Linked DNA regions of Homo sapiens. The protein of the gene in region 6 interacts with the protein of the main gene of each other region in a biochemical or structural test. Each region holds a gene or a part of one and is shown on either strand. Other genes may lie near its edges.

The links.
Region 1: the proteins of OR8G1 (region 6) and PARD3B interact in a test that uses a peptide from one of them, tested with the Homo sapiens proteins (one large-scale study listed by IntAct).
Region 2: the proteins of OR8G1 (region 6) and DLG2 interact in a test that uses a peptide from one of them, tested with the Homo sapiens proteins (one large-scale study listed by IntAct).
Region 3: the proteins of OR8G1 (region 6) and FRMPD2 interact in a test that uses a peptide from one of them, tested with the Homo sapiens proteins (one large-scale study listed by IntAct).
Region 4: the proteins of OR8G1 (region 6) and TJP3 interact in a test that uses a peptide from one of them, tested with the Homo sapiens proteins (one large-scale study listed by IntAct).
Region 5: the proteins of OR8G1 (region 6) and GRIP2 interact in a test that uses a peptide from one of them, tested with the Homo sapiens proteins (one large-scale study listed by IntAct).
Region 7: the proteins of OR8G1 (region 6) and PDLIM1 interact in a test that uses a peptide from one of them, tested with the Homo sapiens proteins (one large-scale study listed by IntAct).

What each region holds. Positions count from the first base shown.
Region 1 is NC_000002.12:205,615,975-205,619,474, reverse strand, and holds part of PARD3B (partitioning defective 3 homolog B), read right to left. Parts: 3' UTR 1-3,500. UniProt on the Homo sapiens protein: Putative adapter protein involved in asymmetrical cell division and cell polarization processes. May play a role in the formation of epithelial tight junctions.
Region 2 is NC_000011.10:83,461,345-83,464,844, reverse strand, and holds part of DLG2 (disks large homolog 2), read left to right. Parts: intron 1-2,751; coding exon 2,752-2,843; intron 2,844-3,500. UniProt on the Homo sapiens protein: Required for perception of chronic pain through NMDA receptor signaling. Regulates surface expression of NMDA receptors in dorsal horn neurons of the spinal cord.
Region 3 is NC_000010.11:48,180,697-48,184,196, forward strand, and holds part of FRMPD2 (FERM and PDZ domain-containing protein 2), read right to left. Parts: intron 313-3,500; coding exon 107-312; intron 1-106.
Region 4 is NC_000019.10:3,748,849-3,751,313, reverse strand, and holds the end of TJP3 (tight junction protein ZO-3), read right to left. Parts: intron 1,177-2,465; coding exon 1,130-1,176; intron 733-1,129; coding exon 630-732; 3' UTR 501-629; downstream 1-500. Other genes in the region: APBA3 (amyloid-beta A4 precursor protein-binding family A member 3), read left to right, coding at 1-125, 217-409. UniProt on the Homo sapiens protein: TJP1, TJP2, and TJP3 are closely related scaffolding proteins that link tight junction (TJ) transmembrane proteins such as claudins, junctional adhesion molecules, and occludin to the actin cytoskeleton.
Region 5 is NC_000003.12:14,533,843-14,537,342, forward strand, and holds part of GRIP2 (glutamate receptor-interacting protein 2), read right to left. Parts: intron 1-3,500.
Region 6 is NC_000011.10:124,239,803-124,243,894, forward strand, and holds the start of OR8G1 (olfactory receptor 8G1), read left to right. Parts: upstream 1-1,292; 5' UTR 1,293-1,562; intron 1,563-4,092. UniProt on the Homo sapiens protein: Odorant receptor.
Region 7 is NC_000010.11:95,267,004-95,270,503, forward strand, and holds part of PDLIM1 (PDZ and LIM domain protein 1), read right to left. Parts: intron 1,860-3,500; coding exon 1,775-1,859; intron 1-1,774. UniProt on the Homo sapiens protein: Cytoskeletal protein that may act as an adapter that brings other proteins (like kinases) to the cytoskeleton. Involved in assembly, disassembly and directioning of stress fibers in fibroblasts.

The DNA.
Region 1 (3,500 bases), on a different chromosome or scaffold from region 6:
CGTAGACTCAGAAAGCAGTAGGGTGTTCTCCCAATTTAACACCAATTTGAAGGCCATTGATTGTAGGTTTCAGAGTTTAATGCCAAAGGGAATTGTACAGACACACATTCAGACCAAACTCTTTAGATCTCTCGACCCTCCTGAAATGCTACAATGTTCCTCCAAAGAAAACGAATGCAGTGGTTACAGGTTTGGGGAAATAATTACTTTTTTATAGGCTTGATATTTGTGCATACCAGGGAAAAGAGAAATGAGCTTTATGAGCCTCCTAACATTGTTAGGTGGCTTTTCTTCAGAAGATCACTTTAGCTCAAGAATTTTATGAATCTTTGGAGGGGACAATGAGTCATGTTTTAATTTGATTGACTTGGTGGAAAACTATAGCTACAGTGAAGCCTCTGTTCTTCCCCATCAGGATCCACGGGTGACAGTCGGTCTCAGAACCCCTACTATGCTCTTAAGATCTTTACTTGGTGCCATCCTGTGGGAGTCAACACATATATATCTACAGATCTAAGAATAATGAGCTTCAGAATAATTGTTTTTTCAATTTTTGTTTGCTATTAGGTTATGATTTAGGAAAATGTTCCTGTTTCTGAGCTTGTATTTCATCCACTGATTTGATATTGTTAGGAAACGGTATTATGGCAAGGGTGAGAGTGCCACAACCCGATGGCATAATGGATTCTGGGGAGGCTGTGTTTCTCTCCCTTGTGGAAGTCTCAATTCTCCTGCATCTAAAAGTTTTCAATGGTCTGTCCTCTTTCATCTCTCTACTCCTGCAAAAAGGGAGAAAAATAGGGCTTCTTAAAATATCTAGTGACTTGAGGGCAAACATCATTTCACGGCCTTCATGACCCAGCAGTCAGATCTGCAGCCAAGTGGATGTATGTTGATTGGGTTTGGAGCTCAATGTGCCACTCTCTTCCAGGGGGGCTATTAGTGTTCTGAGCTACAAGGAGACACCGGATTGAGTTTTCCCAAGGCCATAAATAAATTGGGAGCTATTTCCTGCTCCCAGGCACATTACTGATTATAGCCTGGTCTTCTAAATACTCTAAAAGCCTGTTCCCCTAAATGCTGGGAAAGAGTCCTGTAACCTCTGGGTGGTAACAATTGAAGGGTGAGTACACGGGCATTTATAAATCTTACACTTGAGCTGTTAATTGTTGCTTGGCTTGATGGAGCCTCTGTCTGTCACAAATATAATGTTAGCTTCTTTCAGGCAGGATCAAATGGAGCGTGTGTTATACTTCAAGCAAGGAAAGAAAACTGTTGCAATCTAGTTTTTGTTCACTTTAATAGTACCTTCACATCACTGGCTGCCATTCAGGATTAGCAACTATTTTATTGACTTTGTATGCAACACAAAACCCAGCTTTGGAGCAGTTTACCCTGAGCCTGTGTGCAGGAGGTATTGCACACTCTGGTGGCAACGCTGCAGGTGAAAACATGGGCACTCTTCCTGTAAAGGCCACTCCTTCAAGACACAGGATTCTCACCTGACACCATCACCCCTGGCTGCCCCTCAAGTGGCCTAGGCTTAATCCAGAAGGAATGTTCTGGCTTGGCTATGTTTAGTAGTCTACAGTAGTTTGGTTAAAATATGGAACATAGTGAAGAGCTGCTGGTTTTTAATGCTTCAAAACAAGTTACACGTCCCTCGTGTTATCATTTTCCTTAAGGTGTATTCAACTCGAGGGGAAGGTAGCATTCAGCAGGTCAGCAGGGAAACCGGTAGCTCCCCTGCACTCCACCTCACGTGAGCAGGGCCTGAGATCCTCAACCACTTCGAACAAATTGCAAACACTCTAAAGGTGCCTGGCTTAAGAGAGATGACAGAACAGAGACAAAAAACTTGATAGTCTGTTTTCAACAGGGCCATAGTAAAGTGTAGTTAAGAAAATAATATCACAAAGTCCAGTAAATAACACTATTTACATCTAAAACTAGCAGTTGCATCCTTCTTGGTAGCAGAATACTATTTTAAATTAAAAAGATAAGAGTAAGCTGGGGTAGAGGGATGTCCTATGTATTCAATAATACTATAATTTATTAAATCCTGTGAGTCAGAGGTATGCTAATCTCAGCCAAAATAGACCTAAATTAAACTCAAGACTTTTTTTTTTGGAGGGAATAAAGAAGGAATGTGAAAAGGCTTAAAGCATTTCAAATGTCAGTGCCTGGTTCAAACCAGTGCTCAGGTTTTGCTGTCTTCCACATCTTTTGCTTGTGTTCTCATTTGGGCCAGCTTGTATGTTTTAGAGGTTTTAGTTTCCATAGAAAATTACTGCAAAGCTCAGAAAACATTGTGATCTACTTAGAGGTTGGGGTTTCAGCTTTTTAAAGCCATAACACTGTCCTTTGCCAATTGGAGGCCTTGGCCCTGCCCTGACCTGACTTTAGCTAATGAAATATAGCAAATGCAGATGGATTTAGCCTTAGCGCCTTTTCTCCGTTTCCCCCACTTTTGCATCAAACTCTCCAGAAAGCATTATTAATCTTTCATTCTCCATACTGGCAATCATATGTGTTCGAACACACACATACACACACACACACATACTCTCTCTCTCTCTCTCTCTCATTCACTTCCATCTAATACCTGCTGGTCATCAGAGGCCATGGTCAGCTCCTCGCTGTCCCCGAGTGCAGATGGTTACTGCTTGGCACTGAGTCTGGACTTGGCATTTCCCAGGGCACTGCCTCCTGTGAGACCTCCCCAGTAGGCCCTCTTTCCCAACTACATTTTAGCCCTCAAGTGGGAACCTTAGAGACCCCAGTTAAAGTAATTATAGGCAGGAGATTTGGGGCTGACTCTGAAACCAGATATCTCCATGCCTGGAATGTGGGAGGGAGGAAGGTGAGGGCCGTGGGATGTTGAACCCTCTTAACCTGATCACCTTAGTCCTCGGAAGATATTCCTTCTGGAAGCTCTGACCAGCTGTGCACATCCTCCCGGGACTAATACTGCATTTTACCGACTTTCATATCAAAAGTGAGGAAACATGAAATGTTTACATCCAATGAGTGGTATCAGAAACCTGATAAATTCTACAAATAAATGCAGTCTTTCTCTCGGTACAAAATATTTCAAGATCACTAGTCATGTTTGCTGTTGTTTTTTTTCTTAGTCAAAAAACCTATACTCACTTCAGATGCCTCTATCTCTGTCTGCTCTGCCACACCTTAGACTTAACAGCTCTAAGAAGGGGGCTGAGGCTCCACCTCGGAGCGGGTAATGCTGCCTGGCAGAGACTGCCTCTGGACCGCCAGTCTCAGAGGGGGATGTCCACGTGTCTGCACATCAGCACAGGTTATCTAGCCAGAGAGGATCCCCAGAGTAGAGTTCCATAATTAGTTGTTTGTGTGTTCCGTTGCCACTCTCACTGATTTGAACAACTCTGAAAGCGTTTCAACTATCAGGTAGTTTTGTTTTTATAGCCCCATCTTTCGTCTTCCTTCTGATTTTTTTTCCTCCCCAATTCCCTTCCCCTTCT
Region 2 (3,500 bases), about 41 Mb from region 6:
AGAAATAGAAAAATAAATCTTCATATTGTAAACACTCAGTGGGATAAATGGCTTCCCAGGGGAATGAGGCCTGAGGGAACGACAGCAGTGGCACATTTGGTCCGGTGCAATATTAGGAGACAGTCCCATCTGGCATTCCATAGGAGAAGGTCTACTGCCTTCCACAACTATGAGATGACTTATTTTAGTTATGCCTTAGGGCACTGTCACAGCCACTTATCACCAAGGAAAGTTAAATGTACTAAAGGCTGGACTTCACAATAAGGACAGTGAATCTGACATAATTTGCTGCAGCCATATTCATGGGTCTCAAGTGCAGTGATGGTGACATTCAGACCAATGCAATCTACCTACTAAAGGTTGGATGTTTACTTTACAGTTCACTCTTTTCCAAGGCTTTTACTCCAGGAGCAAAGCTGCCATGAATTGCCCATTCCCCAGAGAGTAGTGAATGCTAGGTCAGCCGGAACAAAAGCATGACAGCTGTCACATTTACACATTGATACATCATCACACACATTATTTCTCAAGTGCATCATCCACATCAAATCACAGAGCTTATTAGCACATACATAGCTGACTCTTCAGAGGAGCATAAAATCAAAGATGTGTATGAAAGGGATGTTCTTTTTATATTGTGCCACCATCTGACTTCTGTTCCCTTTCCATGTGGCAATCTCCCTTCACCCTGCCACTTCCAATCTGCTTTTACCTTCCTGCTCCCATGATGCTCTGTGTTTACTTCTGTCTTCAACTATCTTATAATTATGTTTATCTAGCTCCCCATTTGTTCATTCATTCATTCATTTACTCATCTATTCATTCAACAAATAAATGTTGAATCAGTCTCCATGCCACATGCTGACAAACAAGCCATGGTCTTCGCCCTCAAAGAATTACTGATCAGTCAAGGAGACAAAATAAATTCACAGGTCAGAGAATAAAAACCTAAACTAAGTCATTGCTGTAATCAGTAAAAAGGGAATTCAGAGAAGACAGAATTCTTGGAAGGCAGGTCGAAGATGATCCAGAACTATGTGATTTCTTTCTTTGAGACAGGGTCTTGCTCTGTCCAGCCCAAGCTGGAGTGTAGTGGTGCCATCATGGCTCACTGCAGTCATGACCTCGTGGGCTCAAGCCATGTTCCCACCTCAGCCTCCCAAGTAGCTGGGACTAAAGGTATGTGCCACCATACCCAGCTAATGTTTGTATTTTTTTTGTGGAGACAGGGTTTCACCCTGTTGCCCAGGCTGGTCTTGAACTCCTGAGCACAAGTGATCCACCTGCCTCAGCCTCCCAAGGTGTTGGGATTACAGACGTGAACCACTGTGCCTGGCCCACATGATTTCTTGACATCTGGAGCAAATATTTATCTTTCTCTGAAGAGTGTCCCTTGGTTTAGCCCAGCATCTTCTCCACCCACGAGTAACATCCATTCACAGCATGTACAGCTGAGACTGTTTGGAAGAAAAATTATACATAACACCCCTCAGGACAAGATGAGTTTAGCAACAAGAGTTCAGGAAATTCTCACTACTTTGTATTTCAGCCATTAATGTCTAATGTCAATATATTGTTTTTTTTTTTTCCAAATAGCCTCTTTTGAAAGATATCAAGTCTTGGTATAATAGGAAGTCTAACTGAAAATTGGTTTAAAAAACCAAAACCTTGAGTTCTTACCCCAGATTACTCTTCGTTAAATACACAGCCTTAAGCACATCCCTTCTTGCCTCTGTTACTTGCTCTCGAAAGGAATTGACTAAGGCCAGATGTTCCAGACCCAAATCTCTGGCTTCCTAAGCAGCATGCAAGACGGTAATGATTTCAGAAATTCTACATGCACCTGTGATGCATCCTGATCAGCCAACCAAATTGCATTTGGCAGGACATTTTTTTTTTAACACCTGGAAGACCCGGAAAGATAAAGCTGCCAGTAGTTAAGAATCAATAGATTAGGTTTTAGAGAGAATTCAAGAATTTTTCATTTCTCTCCCACCTTGATTTATCCTTGAGCCTTTTAAAAAAAATTTATATATAATAGTTGTACAAATTTTTGGAGTATATGTCATATTTTAATACCTGTATACAATGTGTAATGATCAAATCAGGGTAACTGGAATATCCATCACCAGAAATGTTTTGGGAACATTACAGTTCTTCTCTTCTAGCTATTTTGAAATATTCCTATAACTGCATTTTATACCCCTTAACCAGCTTCTCTTCATCTCCCCTCCTGCCTTCCCTTCCCAGTCTCTGATAACTACCATTCTACTCTCACATTTCAGAAAGTCTGAGATACACTAGAACAAACTCCAAGAAAGGGTGGTCAGGAAAGTTCAGATTTAGAAATCACATCCAATGAGGGGATAGATGAAGCAATAGGACAGTTTATTCTGAAGAAGTAGAAGCCTCAAGACACACTTAAGCACTTTACTTAAATATCCTAGGGCCTACCATGGAGGATATTAGGTCCCTGCAGAACAGGGACCAGTGACTACAAATCATAAGGAGACATATTTGGCTTCAATCCAATGTGGGACCAAGAGACTGCCCTTTGAGAGAATGAGCTTTCTGGCCGTGAGTCCTTGTTGCTGAAATTATTCCAGCACAGAGGAGTCCTGAATGAAGACTAAAAACCTGTTGCTAAGATTACACTATGTTTTCTGTAGGATTTATTTTTGCCATACATTTTAATTTTTTAGGATTTGGAATATTCCCTTTATGTTCTAATACAAACCCTCATTTTCCCAGGGAGATGAATAAGCGTCTAACAGAGGAACAAGCCAAGAAAACCTATGATCGAGCAATTAAGCTAGAACAAGAATTTGGAGAATATTTTACAGGTAAGTTCACTTTTACCCTGGTAGTGTGAGAAAGGGGATAAATTGTCTGACATTTGGCACAGAGAGGGTTCTGGGCCTGGTGTACTTGTGCCCTAAAACCTTCCTGTTGAGAATCCCTAATATCTGTTTCATATACAAGGAGTATCCCTCTGCTTCACCCATTTTGATGTAAAACCCTGGGTTCTCCTGAGAGTTCAGCTGCAGCCAGCTCCCAGGTTCCCACCAGCCCTACCCAAAACCATGGGCAGGAGATACCCCTGAGCTATCTCCTACCATGAAAAGGATTTGAGGCATTGCTACCTCATTAAACTATCTCCCTGATATCATCAGAAAACTTGAAAAACAAAATTTTAGGGCTCAAAATGGTCAGTGTCCAAAGCAGTTACTCTTGAGAAGAAGCTTGGAGGCGTCCGTCCCCAGCTCCATGAGCTTTCATCAGTGTCCCTATCAGCAGCACCTGAACAAGATGCTTAAAACTTCCTCATGTTTCAGTTCACTGTGTCAAGTCTCAACCAAAACTGCTTTTTTTTTCTTTTTAAATGTTTCCTTGGAAACATGAAGGGGAATAGAGGTTTTCTTCTGGAGAGCCTGAGTTCTGAGTTCTGTATTCCTATATACTTTCATAGAACACTGAGTAATCAGACTTTGTGAAATTTG
Region 3 (3,500 bases), on a different chromosome or scaffold from region 6:
CTGACATGGAAAACAGAGAACAGGAAGGGCCTAGGGGCCAGGCTGTTGGGCTTCACAGTCTGTTCTCTTTCATCCAGATCTAGAAAGTAAACCAAGGGATGATTACCTTTAACGGCAGAAAGGAAAGCTGATGTCTCAGCCTGGGCACTAAGCTCTGCACCCCAGCCATGTCTAGTTCTTCAGTATTTCTGTCCTGGTCTTGTGTGTGTGACAACAAACTTCCCTGGTACCCGAAGCTCAGGATGTCTGTAGAGGAGACCCCAGAATTGGCTGTGCTATTCTTTTCTTCATCTGGGTTATTTCCACCAACACCTATAAAAACAAGCCAAGAAAAAGTCAACAGCTTAAAAAGGCCGGTTTCTTGGTGGCATCTCTATGTGGGCACAGCGTTTTCCTCCAGTGACAGAGTGATCGTTTATAGCTGCTCGGGTACAATATGAATTTAGCTCCTCCTGAAAGATGTTACATTTAGATTAGAGAAAGGGAAGATTCTACATGGGATTTAGAAACCTAGATAGAGCTTACGTGACCCAACTATGAATGCGTAGGCTCAAAAGAAGTTCATAAGGCCAGCTATCCCTTATTAAGCTCTAGCCATGTGATGGGCACCTTAGATATACATATAGGAAGATATGGACATCTTCCCATCTTCTCAGCAAACCCACCAGGAAGGTGTAATCCCAGTTCAAACATGAGAAAACAGAGTCAAAGCTATTAAGTGTCCTGCCCCAAATGCTACAGCCAGCATGTGGGAACTGTCTTAAACCCAGCCTCTCCTGGACACCCCACTGAGCACATCTGCAGCCACCATGTGATCCAAAAACCAACGTATCAGGTCCTTTTGGGAGGCTTGGTAATAACCAAACTGCAGGCCCCTGTGAGTGAAAGCTAGGCCACTGATTCCTGCTCACCCTGTGTCTGACTCGTGACCTGGCATAGAACAAAGAAAAGAACGTGAGGTTGTGAATCAGTAGAAAAACCTTGGGCAAGGTGCTTAACATAACTGAACCTAAATTTTCCTGTATCTAAAGTAGAGATAATATCAATATCAATAATATTGTAGAGTTGGTGAGGCTTAGAGATTATACGTACAGAAAAGATTTTACATATGTTAAGAAAGATAAAAATATATATGTATATATGAAAGAATATATATTCCCTCATATATATATATATATATATGGCTCTCATACACACACACACACACACACACACAGACACGCACAGCTTAGTACATGGTAGAGCCTCAATAAATGTATCTACTGTTAACATGTTATTATTAGCTGCTCCACAAATATATGTGGGAGGAATGAATAACAGTTAGATTTTCTTTAGACCTGGATACAAGTAGATTTACTACTTTTGATACAGACTCATTAACACTCAGGGAAGTGCCCAAACTCACATGCTGAATGAATTCAATTTAAATAAATCTGATTTAATGAATTTGATTTGAAGTTATTCAAATCTAAAGGTATCCAGCAGGGAGTGGCAGGGCCACTGTTTCATAATGCTGTATTTCTGGCCCTTTCATTCACAGATTCTGTCATCATTGTCCTTCTGGCAGTGTCATAAGCATCGGCTCATTCTCTTCCACATCCTCCATGAGAGGTGAGGATGGGACTTACGATTGAAATGAAAAGTCAAACCATGCTGCAACTGGTGTCCTGCCTAGTAGACATATGAGCTGGGAGACCTTTTTTGGTAAAGGAAACTCAATTTATTGTAGACCATGACAGATGCTCATGATGGACATTTTATCTGTCTGATCCTGATCTCCAATCTAGCCCAGCTGCCTTAACAGCAGCCTAAAGAGATAGAAGAAAGTCATGGTAGTCAAGTCTCTGCCACGGAGACCCAGCCAGCATCACCAAGGAAACATCTTCCTCTGGCAGTGGCCCAGCTATGAGGAAACCCCACCATGATGAAGGCAGCATTGCCAAAAGGTGGCTGGGGTGCCACAGTGAAAGGACATTTTATTCCCAGCCATTGTGGGAAACTCATTGTCTGGAATTCTAATGTGAGGTTGTGGTTTGAGAATAGCAGACCTCGAGTACTGCTTTTTGACAACCTCCATCACAGCAGGCCATCCTTGGACTATGCTGAATTGTGATTTGGTCACCTGCATTGTGTTTCCTGACAACACATGGGATGGTTTGACTGCTCCTGTCAGTGGAGGATGTGGAAGAAAACACAGGGATTGCTGAACCACTGCAGAAAGGAGAGCAGTGGTGCTGGGAAATCCAACAGACAGCAAGCCAGAGACTGGCATTGGAGATGTACTGAGGCCAGTCCCTGAGAAGGCTTCAACCCCAGGATGAAGGGTGTGGGGCTGAGACCCCAGCATGGCCACCTTCCACCACCCATAGCTTCTGGACAGGGGAGCTGCATGGCACTGTGTACAGGTACAAGAGTGAGAGAGCATGCATGCAGAAGTGTTCAGAAGGCAAGGCAAATGCAGTGCCTGCATTTAGTACCTAGAAAATGCTGGCTGGTGTGACAGGAAGTTCTCCTGTATACAAGGGAAAACTGTACAACACCCCTCAAGTGTGAAGAAGCAATCATGAGCCTGAATTTGCAGGCGGTCTGCTGTTAGTTTACAGGATCACCCAACCAAAAAGCAGCATTGGTCTCAGGAAACTAGGGAGAAGGGATGTTAGCCTACTCCCATTACTTCCTCCAGGCTCCTCAAGCTTGGTCCCGATAAAAACAATAGTATTTTCCTTTAATATAGGCAGTTGTTGCTCTCTCATTCTTATCTAAAGGATGAAGAAAAGCATCATCAAAAAGTACTTTACTCTTTAGGTTGATCAGGAACATGCACATCAAGTAAGAAGAGCGAGCTTGCCACGAAAATTCAGCTTTAAGAAAAGGCCAGGTGCAGTGGCTCATGCCTGTAATCCCAGCACTTTGGGAGGCTGAGGCGGGCAGATCACTTGAGTTCAGGAGTTCCAGACCAGCCTGGCCAACATATTGAAACCCCGTCTCTACTAAAAAATACAAAAATTAGCCGGGTGTGGCAGCGCGTGCCTGTAATCCCAGCTACTCAGGAGGCTGAGGCAGGAGAATTGCTTGAACCCAGGAGGTGGAGCCTGCAGAAAGCCAAGATCGTGCCATTGCACTCCATCCTGGGTGAAAGAGTGAGACTCCATCTCAAAAAAAAAAAAGGAAAATCAAATACCGCATGTTCTCATTTACAAGTGGGAGCTAAATAATGAGAACCCATGATCACAAAGAGGGGAACAACACACACCAGAGCCTACTTGAGGGAGGAGGATGGGAGGAGAGAGAGGATCAGGAAAAATAACTATTGGGCACTATGCTGAGCACCTAGGTGATGAAATGGTCTGTATAGCAACCCCTGTGACACGAGTTTGCCTGTAATAACAAACCTACACATGTAGCCCTAAACCCAAAACAAAAGATTAACAAAGAACAGTGCTTGTCTCCTCCCCAGCTGATTGCTATACCTATACAAAATATAGAAATTTTGTATAGGA
Region 4 (2,465 bases), on a different chromosome or scaffold from region 6:
GTGGTGGCATCGCCGAGCGTGGGGGCATCCGCGTCGGCCACCGCATCATTGAGATCAATGGGCAGAGTGTGGTGGCCACGCCACACGCCCGCATCATCGAGCTGCTCACCGAGGCCTATGGCGAGGTGTGCGGGTGGTGGGTGGTGGCCAGGGGCGCCCCCACGTCCCCCACGAGCCCAGGCCTGCCCTGAGCCCCGTTCCGCCTCCACTCCCCAGGTGCATATCAAGACGATGCCAGCTGCCACATATCGCCTCCTTACAGGCCAGGAGCAGCCCGTGTACCTGTGACCACCTCATCCCTTGCCTGCCACTGTGCCTTCGCCTCCATGGCCCCGGAGCCCCATCCTGGGCCTGCCCTGGCTGGCCAGGACCCCAGCGGTTCTTGGTCCTGTATGATTTCCTAATATAAAAACAGTAAAAGCTTATGCATTTGGCAAAGTCTCGGATCAGGGTCTACGGGACCGAGGACCTTGTCCTTCCTGGAAGCCACTAGAAGCCGGTGCTGTGAAAATACTCTGTTTATTAAAGACCAGGCGGAGGGAGGTAAGGTTGTGGGTTCTGTATGGGAAACTGAGTCCCAGCCCCAGGGAGGGAGAAGGAGGACGGACCAGCTGGCAGCCTTCGAGAGGTCACAGGTCAGTGGCCGGACCCCAGTCATAGCCGTCTTCATCGGAGGACTCCGCATCATGTACTCGCATAAACTTTTTCTTCAGGGCTTCCCGTTCATAGGTTCTGGGGATCAGGAAATAGAATAGATGCTGTGGGTGGGAAGGGTGTGAGCTTTCTCACCATAAACTGAGGCTGGCTGTGCTAGGCACAGTGGGTGTGGGCAGAGATAAGCACATCTGGGCATTCATGGGTAGGGCCTTGTTAACAAACTCCTATGCATCCCTCAAAGCCCCAGCTGCAATATCCTGCCCTTCAAGAAGCCTTCCTAGGCCTCCCAGGAAGTGGATTCCTACTCCCTTGGCCCTGATTATATGGGGCTTAGAGAGGCTCTGGCAGGCTCTGTCTTCCCCACTAGGCTAGGGGCACCATGAAGGCATAGCTTGGATCTAGATCTGAGTCCGCAGAGTCTGAGTCCCAAGGGAAGGGTTGAGGGCCCCAATCTGGAATATGGGGTTCTTACCGCATGCTGTCCTGTCGCCACTGTCCCTGGGGGTGGCGGCTGTCCACCTTGGAGGAGAGGGAGAGAGGAGCTTCAAAACTCCCCCCAGAGCATGGTGAGTCGAGATCAATAACCACCTCCATCCCATCCCCCACCTTGGCCCGGGCCATGCTGCCCACTTGCTAACCCCGTGACAAGTCTGCAGGTCATCCCCAAATCTAAATGAGAAAACTGAGGCTGGGATAGGGGAAGGCCTTAGCTGAGACCTCCTAGCCTGTCAGCAAAAGGGGAATTGGGTTTCTCATCTGTGCAAGTCCTCACAGGGCCACAGCCATGAGTTCATGTACGTAAAGGACTTAGTACAGTGGCTGCTCCGTATGCAGCCTGCCATGGACAGTTGAGCAGGTTGGGTACTGCACAACCCCAGGAAAATCACTCTAATCAGAGATGTCATTGATTCATAGATTTTTACATTGACCTAGAGAGGGTGTGGAAGAAGATGCTGAGGCATATACACTAAGAGCTACATACACATTTGTTACTGTTAAACACCCAACTACAGCTGGGCGCTGTGGTTCACGCCTGTACTCCCAGCACTTTGAGATGCCAAGGCAGGAGGATCACTTGAGCCCAGGAGTTAGAGACCAGCCTGGGCAACATAGCAAGACCACATCTCTGCAAAAAATGAAAAAAAATTAGCTGGGTGTGGGTGGTGGTGCGCGCCTGTGGTCCCAGCTACTCCGGAGGCTGAGATGAGAGGCTCCCTTTAGCTCAGGAGTTGGAGGCCGCAACGAACTATGATTGTACTACTGCACTCCAGCCTGGGCAGCAGGGCAAGACCCTATCTCTAAAATTTAAAAAATAAAATATATAAATTAGATAGGTCAAGTTCAAAAAGACACGCAACTACTATGTGCCAAAACTTGGGCTGAGCACATTGAGTGCTCACCACCGCCCTGTGCCACCAAGTCTGATACCATCCACCCTGTGTCCTAGATGAGGAAACAGGTGCACAGAGAGGTTAAAATGTTGGCTGGAGGCCAGGTGCGGTGGCTCACGCCTCTAATCCCAACACTCTGAGAGGCCGACGTGGATCACCTGAGGTCAGGAATCGGAGACCAGCCTGGCCAGCGTGGTGAAACCCTGTCTCTACTAAGAATACCTTAAAAAAAAAAAAAAATTAGCTGGGCATGGTGGTGCTCACCTGTAATCCCAGCTACCTGGGAGTCTGAGGGAGGAGAAACGCTTGAACACAGGAGGCCGAGGTTGCAGTGAGCCCAGATCGTGCCACTGCACTCCAGCCTGGGTGACAGAGCGAGACTCTAACTCAAAAAAAAAAAAAAAAAAAAAAAAAAAA
Region 5 (3,500 bases), on a different chromosome or scaffold from region 6:
GGGGTTCAGCCTGTGAGCCATCTCTTTTCCCAGCTGTCAGAGACTTGACTGCGTGCTGCAAAACAAGTCATACTACTGTGCGCAAAGAGTCAGTGGGCAGCAGGCGAGGCCTCGAGAGACTTCCCTAGGCATCTCAGGGTGTGCCCTTGGTGGCCTCTTGTGGAAGTCAAGAAGCCATTCTTGATAGGCGAGTTGCCAGATGAGAGGCTTCTGAGCACCCAAGACCCCCTGGCATAGTCAGAAAGGTGCCCGGAAGGAATGCTGCAGTGTTTGCTGATGCCTATTCAGAGGGGACATAGGGCCTCTCTTTCACGAACATCCTCAGATGGGGGGGAACTGAGGCAGCATCCAAACCAAGAATCAAAATAGGGTTAGAATTACAATTGGCTGTGTGACTCGAGCCTCCATTTTCCCCTCTGTAAAATGGGGGTGTCTCTCCCATGGCTGACTCCAGCTGGCCAGAGCTTGAGAAGTTGAGGGGATTACTTTATTTATAGAAAACCCCTTGGGGGGGTCAGACCCTAGGCCCCCTCCTCAGAGAACATGCTTGCTCTCTCCCACTCTCTCTTTTTTGTTCCAGGACCTGGTAATTATATGCTTAGAGATGAAGGCTTTTCAAAAACATCTTTCCCACCAATTTTCAGCTGGAAACGTGCATAAAAAACAGAGATATTTTTATCCATGTTTTTTTTTTTCCCTGTCTCCTCCTTCCAGCAACGGGCAATTATGAGCTTTTGCCTTCAGTCAATCGTCCTGTAGGAACTCGCTTCAGAGGAAAATTCATTTCCGCAGTGGTGCCAGCCAGTCCCGGCGAATGTGGGGTGTGCAAGTCAGGGGAGGAGGGACAGAGGGAGAAACGTGCTTGGAGCTCAGACCTGTGCACCTGGTACTCAGGCCCACGCTGCAGCCGGGGTGGGTGGCCTTCTTTTTTATTTTATTTCTCTTGAAATCATGGCTAATTTGCCTTCATTATCTCCCGCTCTCTGGGGCCTCAGGGGGCTATTGAGCTTTGACAAAGGGAAAAGGAAGTCAACTCCTTGCCAGGCTGCCTTCGCCAGGGTCCTGCCTAAGCGGGTGGCTGGAAAGAAGCGTGGGGGAGTGGGTGGGACTATAAAGTCAGCCGGCTTTGACTGCTGCCCTGTTCTGTGAGCCTCCTGGAGGGAGGACTCAGCATCTCAAAAGGGACCACTGAGAAAACAAATGCCCAGAGGCTCCACTTGGGGCGAACAGGACATGATTTGCAGGGACGGTGAGCTGTCGGCCAGGACCATGCCAGCTCACCGGGACCCTGGGTGCTGAAGAGGACATGGGCGCTAAGTACTCCACCAAGTGACGGTCCAGCCCCAGCCAGCTTCGCCCCACCATGGAAGGGATTGTTGATATGGTGGGAAGGGAGGGATAGGCTTTGGAGTCAGTCCAACTTGGGACTTTGATTCTAAATCGGCTGCCAACTGGCTAAGGGATCTGGGACAAGTCACTTCTCTCTGAGCCTCAGACTTCTCCTCTGCAAAATGGGGGTACTGGTGCCCACCTCATGGGTTGCTGGGAGGAACTGTGGGGAAGTGTGCACAGAAACCATAAAACATGGCAGTTCCCTCCCTGCCTGCTTCCCTCACCTTGTTGAAAGGTTTTCCTAGATCAATCATGATGATGGCTCCTAGTGATTAAGTGCTGGTTTCTGTGCTTCCTAAGCACGATCTCATTTAATCCTCACCACTTTTGAGGCGGTATAATCATGATTCTCATTTTACAGATGAGGAAACTGAGGCACAGAGAGGTTAAGTGATATCCCATGATAAAGGGCAGGGCCAGGGTTTGAACCCAGGCCTAATGAGGCACAGAGAGGTCAAGGGAACTGCCCAGGGGCACAGAGCTTCTAAGTGGCAGAGCCAGGATTGAAGCCCAGGCCTTCTGGCTCCCTAAGGGGTCTGGCCCTACCCTCTGGGTACCTTCCTGCCTACTCCCCCATCCATGCAAGCCTGGAAGTTGCTGTAATGCCTGCAGCCCCGGGGCTGTTCGGCTCCAGGCAGAGCCCCAGCTCCTTTGGGCGTTCCTCCCTGGCCACTGAGGGCTGGAACAGGCCAAGGGCTCGATGGAGATGCCTCAAAGCCAGTTACAGGCTGACCTCTGAATGACAGTTCCAATCCCCACGGGCGACAAGCCTCCCAGGAAGCCCAGCTTCCATGGGGAGAGCAGCATAGAAAGATCAGATAAGCTCGGCAGAAGCACGTTTTTCAGGGAGACAAAAAGAAATGCATCAATACATTTAAAAATTTGAAGCCTCATTCATTTGTTGCCAAGGATTGCAAAGAAAAAAATAAAGAACCTTAATAAGTAGCACCCAGTGTTGGGCCCTTCCCTGGGCCAGGCCTGCTCTAAGCACTTTATGAATGCTAAGTCAGTTAATTGTCCTAAGAACCATGGAGGGAGGCTCACCGATTGTCCCCAGTTTACAGATAGGGAGCCTGAGGCCCAGAGAAGCCACTGAGCTGGTGAGCTGCAGAGGCACCTGGAACCCAGGGCTCCCTGACCTCACAACAGACCATGCCCTGAACCCTTGGCTCTGCTCTTTCCCTCCAAACAGGAGGGCAACAGACCCCAAATGAGAAGCATCAGGGCACTGGGAAGGTGACAGCTCCAGTATCCCAAGAATACCTAAGTTAGGGCTCAGGCACTCACAGGCTGGGTGCATCAGGGCTAGCAGGACCCATGGCATCACCTGGAGAGGCCGCCACCCCCACAATCCTCCTCCACACAGGGAGAGGGGCTCCTGTCCAGCAGGCCTGAGCCACACGCAGGCCAACATCCCACCATGGGAGAGCGGGGGCGCAGTCTCAAGTTGGGGGTTGGCCTTCTGCGTTCTGGGTCCTGCTCTCCTGCCCTACTCTAAAACCAGCAATGTCAAGGAACGTGACCTCAAAATCAGGGTCACCCACAGAACCATTCAGTTTCCCAATGGCGGCTGCCTGCAGTCACAAGAAGACTGTGTCTAGCTCAGGGAGAGTAGAAGCAGAAGTCCTCACCACAACTGTCAGTCCCCGGTCCCCTGACTTCACCTCCTGATGCTCGCCCTGGCCAGCTCCACTCCAGCACACTGCATTTTCTCACTTAATCCTCATAACCACACTGCCACTTGGGCACTGTTATTCTCCCCATTTTACAGCTGGGAAAACTGAGGCATGGAGATGCTAAGTGACTTGTTCCTGGTTACACAGCCAGAAGTGACAAAGCGGAGATTTGACCCTATGGGCCCACCCCACCTTGGCAACTGCACTCTAAAGGGAGGTGAAGCCTTCCTGGACACATCTGTCCTTTCGACCCAAGGCCCACCAGACTCACATCCCCCTAGGGCCTTTGCATCGGCTGTTCCCTCTGCCCACAAAACTCTTCCCCAGACATCATCAAAACTCCCGTCTCAGCTCCTTCGGGAACTTGTAGAAATGTCACCTCCTCAGGGAGGCCTTCCCCATCCGCCTGTTGGAACTTACACACGCACCCTG
Region 6 (4,092 bases):
GTCTCCAACCATAATGGAAATATCATCTTCCAACAGTGATACCAACCTCATTTATTCTTTCCATTCAAAAAATAACAGAAATCATGACAATGTGTTAGTTGTAATCTCTAGTTTTTGCACAATGTTAGCCTGCAGCAGTCTCTTTTCTGCCCGATTCAACTAACTAAACTTGTCTTCCTTATTTCTTCCATTATTTTTTTTTTTTACTTCAGAAACCTATTCAAAACTTTAGAGTCAAAGTTGCAGACCCACGTGTGTGTTGTGATTGTACACTCCAGTATGCCCACTGCTTTGCCTTTTACTATTCTAATTTGTGCTGCCTGCTTATTGTCCAATGTGCCATGGGCTGTAATCTAGGATGAGATTATGAAAAAAAACTCCTTGTTGATTTTAAATGTGCAGCCATAGTAAAATCACTGATCTAGACCTACTTCATTCTCTTTAAAGACAATCAAACCTAGTGTTTTGTACGATTTTTCAGAGCTTCTAATATGTAACTTCCCATATAGTCTTTTTCAATTCCTTCATTTATTTGATGCACATTCAATATAAAATTTCATCTAATTTTATTTTGAAGAAAGTGAAAAACCATAAAAAGTAAGAAGTGGGGCACTTATATGGACTTATATGGAAACTAACTTCTCCAAAACTTAAATACTTTCTTCAGTTATAAAAATTAGGAGGCAGAATTTAAATCAACAAAGAAACTCAAAAATTAAGTATTATATCAATCCCTAAATTATTACACCATGCTTCCTGAAATACAATTATAAACAGATTTGAATTTTCAGTCAACTATATAAATTACCTATTTACACACAAATTAAAACTAAATATGTCTATTTGCAAGGAAATAAAAAGTGTGTTATTTTAAAGTTTTTAACTTTATTATCAGTACAAGATAACTTGTCAGGATGTGCCTAGTCCTCTCAAGTATATTAATCACAGTGTGTGCTGTGAACTAAATTACATTAGAAGCATGTAAGAAATGCAGAATTTCAAGCTCCACTCAGACCTATTGCATTAGAATCTGCATTTTAGCAGAGATAATCCTTGTGCACAAATATTTACCACCAATTGACAATTTTAAAATTGACAGGGAATTCGTTTACAGGAAAATTAGACAACTGGGGAAATGTCAAGTGTAATTGCTGGTTTTTTCCAAGAATTTGGTCCCTGAGAAATGGAAATCCCGGGAGAGTATTTGTCTCCATGTTTTTTGGTACCTCGCATATCTTAACCCAGGGCAAGCCTTTATAGCACAGCAATCAGAGCTGCTCAGGTGAGGATGCTTGCCACCCTGAAGCTGGAGAAACAAAAACTGCAAAGTCATAATTAGAAATACTGACCTGTGATGCAGACCAGCTTCAAAGTGACTCTGAGACTGAGGGCTGGGCCCTGCCCTCTCAACACTAAAGATTCCAGAATGCTGGGTGTCTATGACTCTCAACACCAACATTAATGCCATGTCAGGAAGAGAACATTCCAAGCCAACATTCTCCATGTCAGGAAGAGGAAATTGCAAGTAAAATCAAGCATTGAAGTTTTTAGGCAGTGGAAAGGTGAGTGTTTTCATCCATCACTTGTGATTTGAGACTATTAGATCTGGAAATAATCTTTGCAAAAAATCAGGAAACTATTATTCCTCATTATCTTTACTTATTCAATTATTTATGAAATGCTCTTTTAAACCCTCTTCAGTGGGCCAGCCACTTTGCTAGTTACTAGAGATACAGAGGAGAATAGCTCGGGTCCATCACTGGGCTTATAGAATAACTCAGTCAAAGAAAATGTGCTGTCTGGAAATCAGAGTTTTTGGAGCTTACAGTAGGAAGATCAACTTAATTACAATAAACTGGACAATATTTACATGATGACTTCATTTTAAATGAGATTTGAAAAGTAAATATTTACCAGACATCAGAAAGACAGGTGTTGGTAAGACTATCTAATGTAAAAGAAATAGCTAATGAAAAGGCTCAGTGAATGTGACAGACTCTAGGAACTGAAAGAAGCGAAGTGTTCCTGTAGCCAAGGAGGAGGATCACAGGAACTAAAAGTGAAGAGGGACAAGAGATAGCATGAATCTGTGTACTTTATCCTAAGTGTAATTAAGGCAACCTGTTCATCAGTGTCCCTGAAAGTGAATCATCATCTGATTTCTGGTCCAGTGTATTTTATGACCAGGAATAAGTAGCTCATTCAACTTCTAAGAACTCAAATACTAGAATATTTTCCTTTACATTTATTTTTATTTTTTTTCAGTAGTAAATTATTTATATATTTTTATTATTATTATACTTTAAGTTTTAGGGTACATGTGCACACTGTGCAGGTTAGTTACATTTATTAAAAGATGTATTCATAAATCTTTCAAATGCCACACACAAAATTAAAGCTTATCCTTGCTCTTCTTAGGATACATGAAAATGCTCACTAATTATCTCATTGCCTGCAAATATTTCCCAAGCTCTTGACAGCTTTTGTGTGCCTTCCATCTTATCAATGTCTTTCTTTTAAAAATATATCCATTGGAAAACGATGGACTCCAGGTGTAATATGATAAGTGTGGAATGGTGCTTTCTAACCTCATGAGCACATAGAAGATGGTCATATTAATATGGCATAATGAAGTTACTGGATGAGAAAGCTTGTGGCTGATGGTGACCAGTGAACTGGCTCTGAATGCCACAGTCTTATCTGTGAGAACCCGAGGGCTACAGACCAATACCTCTGAACCATTATGAACCTTTCCCTACATTTCAGTTCCATGGCATATGAGTTGGAAGCTATGTTACAGATCTTACATGGATTGCTAGTCATCATAGTCTAGCCATTATTTTTTTTATAAATGAAATCTGAATCTCCCCTTGCTTTATCCATCATCCACTATTCTATGGACTTCATTTAGTTAATACAGAAGTACACTTTTATGTTTTCTTATGAATTGTATTCAAACCAGATATGTTGTACATAAAGAATTAATCATTTAAACTAAGACTGGAAGTTAAGTATTTTTCTCACTCAATTTTAGCTTGTTTTTTTTAGCTATTTTCAGTGTCTAGAACCAACCACATTTTGCTGGTTGTCATAATATTTTAGGACTGAAGTTACAGTAACTTGGGAATATTGTTAACCAAAGGGTGTGTGTAGACCATACCATGGGGAATTGTCAATTCCCAAATCCATGTATAACTCACAAAAAGAAAGTTTCACAGTTTAATTCCATAGAACTCTTCCCAGCTGTAATCCCTACTATGATGATTACAATTAAAGTAATCAAAAACGTAAATGACTAAAAAAGTAGAGAAAAATGCTTTTGATATTCATGATGTTCAGTGACCTTACCTTATTCTTTGATATTATATAATTTATAACCCTACTTAGCTGGCTTTGGTCAGACCTTTTATTGCTACTGTCATATATACCCAATTTTTAACACGCAGGAGTAAACATAATAGACCAGGAGCCCTATATTTTTTATTTGTTCTTGTATTAACAGAAGACTATATTTTGTGTACATGTAAAGTATTTTTCAGAGCCTCATATTGATCCTATAGTGATCACATGAGGACACATAAATAATAGAAAATACATTTTTAAATGTATATATAACAGAATAGCTCTGAATTCGTTCGGGAAACCATTCAAAAGTTGCATGCCTCTCTAACTTTACTTCAGTTATTGAAATAATTGACACATCATCCCTTATTATGGTGAATATTAGACTTAGTATCAAGTCTCTACAACAGTATTTCTCTTCTTCTTAACACAGTCCTGTTGGGTTGTATAAACAATCAATTCACGTATTCATTGTATTGGCTATTTCTTCCAGTTTTATTTTATCTGTACATTAAATGATCACTCATTTCCATTTTAATCTTAACTAAATTATTGAAAACATTGTTAACAGGATAGAATTAGATTGAGAGTTCTATTAAAGCAGGGAATGTGTCATTTTACTTTTCATGCATTTTGGCTTCGGGTCAGTATTCGACCCCTTGTCTCTCAGTAATGATGGCTGAATAAAAGAGCGAGCTAGAATAGGTGCAGCAAACCACCATGGCACATGTATATCTATGTAACAAACCT
Region 7 (3,500 bases), on a different chromosome or scaffold from region 6:
ATTATAGATGAACTCTGCTCTTACTCATTTATCCTCTACTTTAGAATGGCTGGAAGTAAAAGACTGGAAAAATGATGGGTGAGAAGTTTTTCTTACAGTAATAAAGCATTACTAGAATCACAAGAAAAATACAAGGGTTTAAAGTATTTGAGAATTTTTGTAATCTGAAGAGAACTACCTTCAAAAGATTAATACAGGTAACTACAGATTTAAAATGAAAATTCAAATATACTACAAATGAAAACTATAACTGAAATTTACATAATTACCTTATTTACATGAAAATGAGGATTTCAGATAGACCAAGTTAAAACGAAATCATTCCTTGTGTGTTATAAAATATGTAAAAATTAAAATTTAACAATTAAAATTTAACATTTATGGTAAATTTAATGAAGTAGCTGAGAACTCCCAAGGAAACTGAAACTAACTGTGGCATGTTTTAAATTAGTTTGCACAACTGCCAGTGTATAGACCAAGTGCCATTTTACGAACTTTCCTGAGAGGAGTTGTATAGAAGAATATGTTCACATCAGTTTTGAAATGATGCAAAATGATCCTTAAAATGACTCTTGGGATTTTTAATAATTATTTTTACTATCTTAATGGCAAAAATTTTATGTGACTTCGTTTTTGAAATTTTAATGGATTCTATTTGAGAAAATATGACTTATATCCAACCACCCAATTAACACACACTAATATACCAAGTGAGTTCAACTTCATACAAGTTTCTGTTTTATGTATAAAAGATAGCTAGCTATATATTGTATTTTAATTACATCTTAATTCACCATAAAAACTAAATAGTATCCCAAATTTAGAAAAATAAGTTAAATTTCAAATCTTCAACTTGGGTCAAATGCATAACCATCACAAACCAGTGTAAAATTTTCAAAAGGCATTATCAACATACCTAGTTTATCATTACTAATTCATTAATGTATCCAACAGACACATACTTTGAGACAAGTAGCATGTTGGGTGTGAGGAATTTTACAAAAGATGTTCTAAACATCTCTAAGTTTGTCCCTTATTTCAAAAACAATACCCATGCCTTGTAGATTATTTAGAAGAGGCACATAAGGCAGAAAGAAATAAAATCACCTACAATCCAATAATCCAACTACTGAGAGATTTATTCACAAATATGGGATCTTAGGGCAGTCTACTGTCCTGAGAAATTCTATCTGGGTGACAAATTGTACACTATGTACTGCTTTTTTTTATATTAATTGCTGCTTTATTTTAGTAATTTTAAAGTCTCACTAGAAGTTTCACTGTAACAAAAATAGAGATTTCCACTCCATGGCTCATGGAAACCAGACAGGGGCATACAGTGGGGAGAAGCAGGGCTTCCTATTACATATTCCCCGATTTCTTCTAGGCTCTAGGCCTCCAGACCTAAACTTATTTTCATCCCTGTCATGATTCATTTGTTGCTGAAATCCATAACGAGCTGAATAGCTCCTTGACTTCACTGTGATCCTGCCAACCCTTCCCACGCAGGAAGGCTTCCACCGGCTTCCCTTATCGCCTTCCGACCCCCTGCTTCCAGCCCAGGACACAGCGTCACTGCCCTGGGGTTTTCCAGCCCTATCCTCCTGCAGTTCCCTTACGGGAAGAACTGAACAAGAGCCAGATACCAGCAGAGACAGTGAAGGGTCTTATCCCCAGGCCTCCAGGGCAGGAAAAACAGGAATGTGCTGAGCAGTGTCAGAAACGGCAAAGTGCTGGGTGGTGAGAGCAGCGGCAACGATGAGCAAGAACTTACCTGGGGTTCAGAGGCTAAATTCATCTTGTATGGATGACGCTTCCCTTCCTCCGTCACCAGAGGAGACCAGACTTTATGTTCAGATCTGCAACAGATTAACAAAGCTGCTGTTTCACTCATGTAAAATAAATAATATATACCAAAGACAAACTGGAAAAATGCCCCCTCTTTCCTGGACTAGGCACTGAACTAGCACCCTCCCATCAGCTCTACCTTCCATTTGCCACCAGGTTGATCTTTTAAACACCCCAATCTGATAACATCCATGGCTGATGGCTCCCCAGCATAGCCCCAAGGGGCTTCCCAAGCACTTCATCCTCCCTCACCACACTCTGGGTAGCTGACACCAGCAGTGTGGTCTCCTCCATGTTCCTAAGCATGACTCACACTGCCCTATCTCTGCTCAGGATAGAATGGGCTTCTCCTCTATCTCAACCCAGTGTGTTTGGTCCAGACCAAATAACCAACTTATTTGTGAAGCCTGTTTGACCCAAATGAAAATAATGCCTCTTGGCCGGGCGTGGTGGCTCACGCCTGTAATCCCAGCACTTTGGGAGGCTGAGGTGGGGAAATCACTTGAGGTCTGGAGTTTGACATCAGCCTGGCCAACATGGTGAAACCCCATCTCCACTAAAAATACAAAAATTAGCCGGGTGTGGTGGCATACGCCTATAATCCCAGCTACTCGGGAGGCTGAGGCAGGAGACTTGCTTAAACCCAGGAGGCAGAGGTTGCAGTGAGCTGAGATAGCACCACTGCACTTCAGCCTGGGTGACAGAGTGAGACTCCATCCCAAAAAAAAAAAAAAAAGAGAAGAACGCCCCTCTTTTGCTCTTATAAACTATTTTCTTTGTACCAACCACAGAGCAATGATTTTACTTTAGTCTCAGTTTTCATTAGTGTCGTTGTTTCCTCTCTTGCAGGTAGAAAATATTTATACTTATCTTTATTTATTTTATTTATTTATTTTTTGAGACAGAGTCTCGCTCTGTCGCCCAGGCTGGAGTGCAATGAATGGCGTGATCTTGGCTCACTGCAACCTCCGCTTCCCAGGCTCAAGCGATTCTCCCAGCCCAGTCTCCCGAGTAGCTGAGATTACAGGCACCTGCCATCATCCCTAGCTAATTTTTTTGTGTTTTTGTAGAAACAGGGTTTCATCATGTTGGCCAGGCTGGTCTTGAACTCCTAACCTCAGGTGATCTACCCACCTCGGCCTCCCAAAGTGCTGGGATTACAGACTAGAGCCACCATACCTGGCCATACTTAACTTTATATTTGTCACAATGTCTATGCCAGATATACAAGATGTCCCTTTTCAACATGCCGGTAAACAAATAAAAAATCAATTAATCAATGAATGAATGAATGTCCTGAACTCGGGCTTGAAGGAGAGGATTTGGACAAAGATAGAAATGGAGATGAGAATGAAGGGCAGATGTGCTTTTGAGGGGGTAGTAATAACACAGTGTACCTCTCATGGGGTAGGTCTCTGAAGTGTACAAAATATTTTTATATACTCCCCCACACTCGATCCACCTGCCAGTCCTGTGCCACAAAGCAAAAAAAAAAAAGCAAAAAACATACTTCACAGATGAGAATCTAACCAAAGGCTCCATGACAAAGAGCTGTGGCAGCTAAGGTTAGTGAGATAACAGGTGATCAGAATGAAACATCTGAATTTGATGCAGTAGGAAACAGGGAGCCAACTGAGGGTTGAACCAAATCA